Linked DNA regions of Homo sapiens: region 2 is linked to region 1. A link means that fine-mapping ties the variant in region 1 to the expression of a gene that starts in the linked region. Tissue or cell type: tibial artery. Region 1 holds a variant in brackets; the other region holds the start of a gene. All regions are shown on one strand. Distances are between the middles of the regions.

Region 1 (2,689 bases):
TGTATGTGTTATCAATATGTTTGGCACAGAACAGACTGAATGAGCAAATGGCTTGATCTGTGAGACAATGCAGATTACTGAGACTGTAGGATAATGCAACAAGGAGTGCTGGATGATGTTACAAAGCACATCCTCTGCTACCTAGAGGGTTACGTTACGTTTTATGATTTCATCAGTCAACAAATTGAGAACCATCCTAAGGATGAAAAAAAAAACTACTTAAGTAAGTGCCAAATAAGTCTGTAACCTTATTTGACCAAGAAAGTATGGGGGAGAAAAGGATTTATTTCTAGAGGAAGTGGGTCTTGGTCTAATATTAGCCTTAAGTTGAAGTGCTGAGAACTAGATAGAGAGTTGCAGGGTTGATGTCTGCAAGCAAATTTCAAAAAGCAGTTGCTGGGTCTGGGAATAGACACTACTGAGGAAGAAATCATTACAGTCCATAGAAGAATCCAGAAAGAAGGTGGGTAGAATCCCTCTCCTATCATGGGAAGTGTGGATAAGCCTTTCTACCTCCACAAAGCTTCTGAGGCACAGCCCCTTTGAGTCAGAGAGAGAAAGTCCAGTTAGCACACTAGCTAAGAGGGCCTGTCTTGGAAGAAGATGATATAACACATCACAGCTCAAAGAAATGGTGGCATGCCTCAGACCACTGCCGGCTTAGGAGACCAGTGAGAAACTTCCTTTACCAAAGATTAGTATTCCAGGAAGCCAAGAAGAAAATAAATACCTTTGGACCTAAAGAGAAATAATATGTAACATTCATTGAACACTTAGTATCAGGCATTACATTAAGTGCTTTACATATTTTATCTCATTTAATTCTAAAACCAATGTTATGAGATTGTTGCTCTCATTATATGTAATAAACCACGCAATAACTAAAAAATATGCAAAAATAAAAATAGATAAGTAACATAACTATTTTATACCCATAAAAGTGGGGGTTGTATGGTTTTTTAGAATAATTAGGATGGAAAGATGGAAAGCAGACAGATGCATGCACTATTTTGGCCCTCATCTTCAACCCTAAATAGGGTAACTAAATGTCTCAATTTACTCAGAAGTATTCAGGCTTTAGCACACAGCTCAGGAAATCCTTCGTTCCTTGGCAAACCATAATGGTTGGTGATCCCATTCCCCCAACTACTAAATTTTGAAC[T/C]ACTTGGCAAATAAATACAGAGATTTAAGCCCCAGTATGTCTGGAGTCAAGTCAAAGCATGTTTTGCTTTAACAATTTTCCAGGTGATGCTGGTGCCTACCAAGATTGGAAAAACACTGACTGCAGCTGAAAGAATACAGGTAAAGCATGAATCATCCTTCCCAGGCCTGCATTTATTTAGAGGTTGTGTGTGCAAGCCAACTTCTGCCTTCCACTTAATTCCCATCTGGTTGAGGTGCCAAGCCACCCATAAAATAACTATAGATTGAAAGCAAAGCAAAGCAAGTGTGCAAGCACAAAGAGAAAAGTTAATTAAAAATATGGAAGGGGTAAGAGTGTAGAAATAAGGTGAATGAATGGATATCAGGAGAAGAGGAGTGCAAGAGGAAAGCAGTGCCTGGGTTTGGAGGTTTGGAAGGGAAAGCTGTGGAGAAAGGTGATCCTCCCAGACTCTGCGCACATCTTCTCCCTGCTGCTTTTTGGGGCTGTCTTTTTTTTTTTTTTTGTCACGTGCAGCAGCCACTCACAGCTTGTGTTTCTCTGAAACTTGGATCATTTTACCAGCTATTTAATAAGACTAAATAAATGGTGTCAGCATCAGAAAGCATTGCACATTTTGTTTAGAGACGTGTACATTCCTTCTTGCTATTAAACTGTGATAACTTTTGGCAAGAATATTACTTTGCTCTGTCTTCTCTGAGAAGAAATTTTCCTTCTGTTCTCACATGGCCATTGAAGAAACAAAGACTACCATATTTAATGGAAGACAAAAGGGCATGCATTTGGGAAAATATTGACTTAGAAAACCTTATCCCTGAGAAAAAGATTGTAAGGGAATGAGCCGATGAAAAATCCCATGTGATTTACAGAATTTAGAAACTTCTTTTTTTGCTAATGTTAATTTATCACTTAAAATTGACCCAGAACATTAAATCAATACCAATTTTAGCTAGCCACTATGTTTTTGGAAATTAGAGTTTAAATCCCACTTTTGTTAAGTAGGAAAAAAATAATCCCATAAAGCTCCCAGTTGGGATCTAGTAAAAGGGCATCCTTTTATGAAAGAAGCTTCCCAGAGAGCAAGCAAATAAATGACCCCCAAAGAGGACTGAAGGCTTTTTACCATAAATGTGTACTATTTTCAACATTAGTTTAATTAAGAATGGATATAAAAAATAAGTCTTCAGAGCCTGCATAAGCCAGCATTTATCTTTAAAAAAATTCCTGTATGAATTCCTGTACGAAGATCATCTTAATGGCCATCACTGCACGCGATCATAACTTTCAGCACTTGCCTTCCTCTGCTTTGTCTCCTCACACTTTTACTCATGCCTTGTTCCTAAATTTAAACTGAAATGAGGACAGAGAAGGTGTCTCATTCATTTCTCTGTCCATTTGTTCATTCATTCATTCAACCCATATTTACCGAGTGGCCGGTATGTGTCAGGGTTAGTTTTAGGACCTGGAATACAGTGGTGAATAAAAATGCAGTCACTGAATTATGTTTACAGGCTTGGGGAGGTAAGA
Region 2 (2,689 bases), 540 kb after region 1:
GACGAGGCCGGCTCCAGACCGGGTGGCAGGGTGTCCCCGGGCCCTGAGTGGCCAACAGCAACTGGGGAAGCACTGAGGAACCCTAACGGGAAAGCCCGCCCCACATCTGAAACAGGCAGCCCGTGAAGTCCCCAAACCAGCCTTGAAACGCCGGCGTCCAGAGGCCAGGTCCCCGGCGAGGGTCCCTCCCAGCCTTGCCCGCCCCCGGCCCGAGCGCCGGGCGCTCTGTCGCCCGAAGGACGGATAGGGGAGAGAGGGGCTGGGGGAGCCCTCCGCGTCTCTCCACCGCCCCTGCCGGCGCAAGGGCGGGAGTGGAGAAGGCGCCACTCAGACTGTGGCGCTGGGCAAACTGCGGTCGCAGTTCTTCCAAGTTTGCCCGAACCAGAACGCGGAGTGAGCGCCCGGCTCGGCTCTCCGTCTGCGCCTTGCAGCCGCCCCGGAGTGACCCGGGCTCCCTGGCCAGCCGGGCCTGAGCCATCAACTAAGGGGTAGAAGGGCGCGAGAGCAGCGGGAGGCGGGAGCCAGGGTGCTCCCGCGTGTGCACACAATGAGGCGGCGGAGACGCACACCTTCCCCCGCCGAAGAAGCCGCAGGAGCATCCGCCGCCCAACACGGAGACGCGGAGTCCCATAGCGGTGGCAGAAAGTGAGCACCAACTCAGCAACAGGGGGAAGGAAGGGGACGCCGGGCGGCCAGTGGGACGTGCGGCAGCCGAGGGCTGCAGCCTGCCCCTGCAGCGCGCCCGCGCTTACCTGCGATCTCCTGGTAGGGGATGTCCGCCAGGCTGAATCCCTTGGCACCGTACGCCTGGCGGACCTCTCCGCAGCTCCGAGCCTTCACATCCGCCCCGGCGGGGAGGGAGAGCAGCAGCCCCAAGAGGGGAAGAATCACAGCCCCGATCCAAGAAGGCATGGTGCAACATACAAATCCAGCTCGGTAAACCCCACGGCCGGTGCGCTCTTCACCTTGCCCCTCAAGCCGAAAGCCCGCCAGAGGCAGCGGCGCGCTCCTCGCCGCTGCCCAGCGTCACCCCCTTCTGCCAGCCGAGGGGACGAGCAGCGCAGCCCTCTGGACTGCGCTCAGCAAACTTTTATAAGCCAGATGGACGATGGCAAGCCAACAAGGGCTGGCTGGGAAGGCTGCTGCCTTGCTCCTCTAGCCCCCAGATGGAAACGGTGCAATCAAAACGAGGAAGAGAAGGAAAAGAAGTGTTTAAAAAACCACCATGGGGGTTCAGAGCTGCAATCCGAGTTCCGAGCCGCAGAATCCTGGAGCGCTGCGGGCTCGGCTCGCCGGAGTGTGCGGCAAAGGTGGGAGCGCGCGCCGGCTCCCCCGGGAGGGAGATGGACAAGCGAGAGCGAGTGTGTATGCGCGCGTGTGTCTGTTGGTGTGAGCTCGAGGTTCTTGGGGATGTGTGTGCGTGGAGGTATGTGTTGGGGATATACGAGATCTAGGGGAAACCTCAGCTTAACACAGGCTGTGGGAGCCTGTGAGAGTCCTCCTGAAATAGGAAGAGAGAAATCCTGGAGACAGTCACTGGAGGCAAGAGGGAAGGAGAAAGGAGGGGGGAGAAAGAAACGTGCTACACATTGCACAGCCGAAATTCACAGGCCGAGTCAAAGGCAAAACCTGGACTGGATCTCTTCCTAGTCGGTAGAAAGGGGAAAAAAAGAAAAAGAAACGTACCTATTTTCTTATTCACTTCACATCCTTTATACCGATCTGAAATGACATCAATAAACAATCTAGAAAGACAAGGTAATTTTAAGTCATTAACATGTTATTAAGCTGTATTTTTATGGAGGTAAAGGATAACGCAGTTCCAATTGTTGCTCTTAATATGTGTCCCTGACCTACTGAAACACAAAGCCAGAGTGGAAATAGTCATAGACGGGAGTTCATGGGTGGCAGAGCACAATCACGGCTCTAACTAGTTGCCTAATTTCTGTTTGACTTTGTTTTTTTCTAAAGGCACACATTACAGACTGGTAGTTCTTAATTTTTAAAGGTTTGGTTCTAGACTCAACAATTTCCCCTTTTTTTATTTCAAATATCTCATAGCCTTCGATCAGAAATCATTATGCTTAGGTTTCTAATGTGTGGAGGATCGGGAAAGCTAACAACCAGACCACAGAAGCAACAAGAAAAGGAGAGCACAAGGGTCAGAGGTGCATAAAGGGACATAATGGGGGAAGGGAGGTGATTCCTTCCCTCTCACTAGATGCCCTCACATAGTAGACTTAACATTTTCTTCCAAGTTAACATAATTCTCAAGTGGAGAATCAATCCAATTTCTTCTTCCTGTCTCCATTTACACTGATGTTCTGTGAACGGGATAAAAGTGAAAATTCAGGTTTGCCTAATTGACTTTGTTATGCTAATGGACGCACTAAAGTCAGCTGGCAGAAGTGTGTGTTGAAACCCAGAGCTCCTGAAACTACTAAGATAGTTTAATGAAAACCAAGACAAAATAATAATAATAATAGTGTTTATTCACTTACGTGGCTATGTGTCATAGGTCAGCACATTATTCACAAACTACTACAAGGTAATGCACAGTTTTGTGGAGCTCACCTATGAAGCTACACATGAAGATGTTTTCCTGATGATGATATGAATGACCAGAATGACTCATGAAGTTTAAATCTTTGAGTTTGTCATTATCATCACAACATATTAGGTACATTGT

Alleles and levels. Positions count from the first base shown, and alleles are read on the strand shown. Sizes are in standard deviations (SD) of each study's normalised expression.
For the expression in tibial artery of the gene that starts at base 1,562 in region 2, C is the low allele of the variant in region 1 and T is the other (moderate effect, 0.42 SD a copy in GTEx).

Evidence for each region. PIP is the estimated chance that this variant, and not a neighbour inherited with it, causes the effect.
Region 2: it holds the start of GPC6, and the variant in region 1 is fine-mapped to the expression of GPC6 in tibial artery (GTEx, PIP above 0.99). The same link has a PIP of 0.9 or more in left ventricle.

What each region holds. Positions count from the first base shown.
Region 1 is chr13:93,768,412-93,771,100 of GRCh38, reverse strand. The region is part of intron 2 of GPC6 (glypican 6); the gene reads right to left. Among named protein-coding and RNA genes, the nearest start is that of GPC6-AS2, 89 kb to the left of the region's middle. The variant T/C (reference allele first, on the strand shown) is at 1,163.
Region 2 is chr13:93,225,680-93,228,368 of GRCh38, reverse strand. GPC6 (glypican 6) reads right to left here and starts at 1,562. Exons shown (of 9, transcript NM_005708.5): 1 at 753-1,562. The coding sequence starts at 912. RefSeq lists a silencer at 1-73 and an enhancer at 127-969.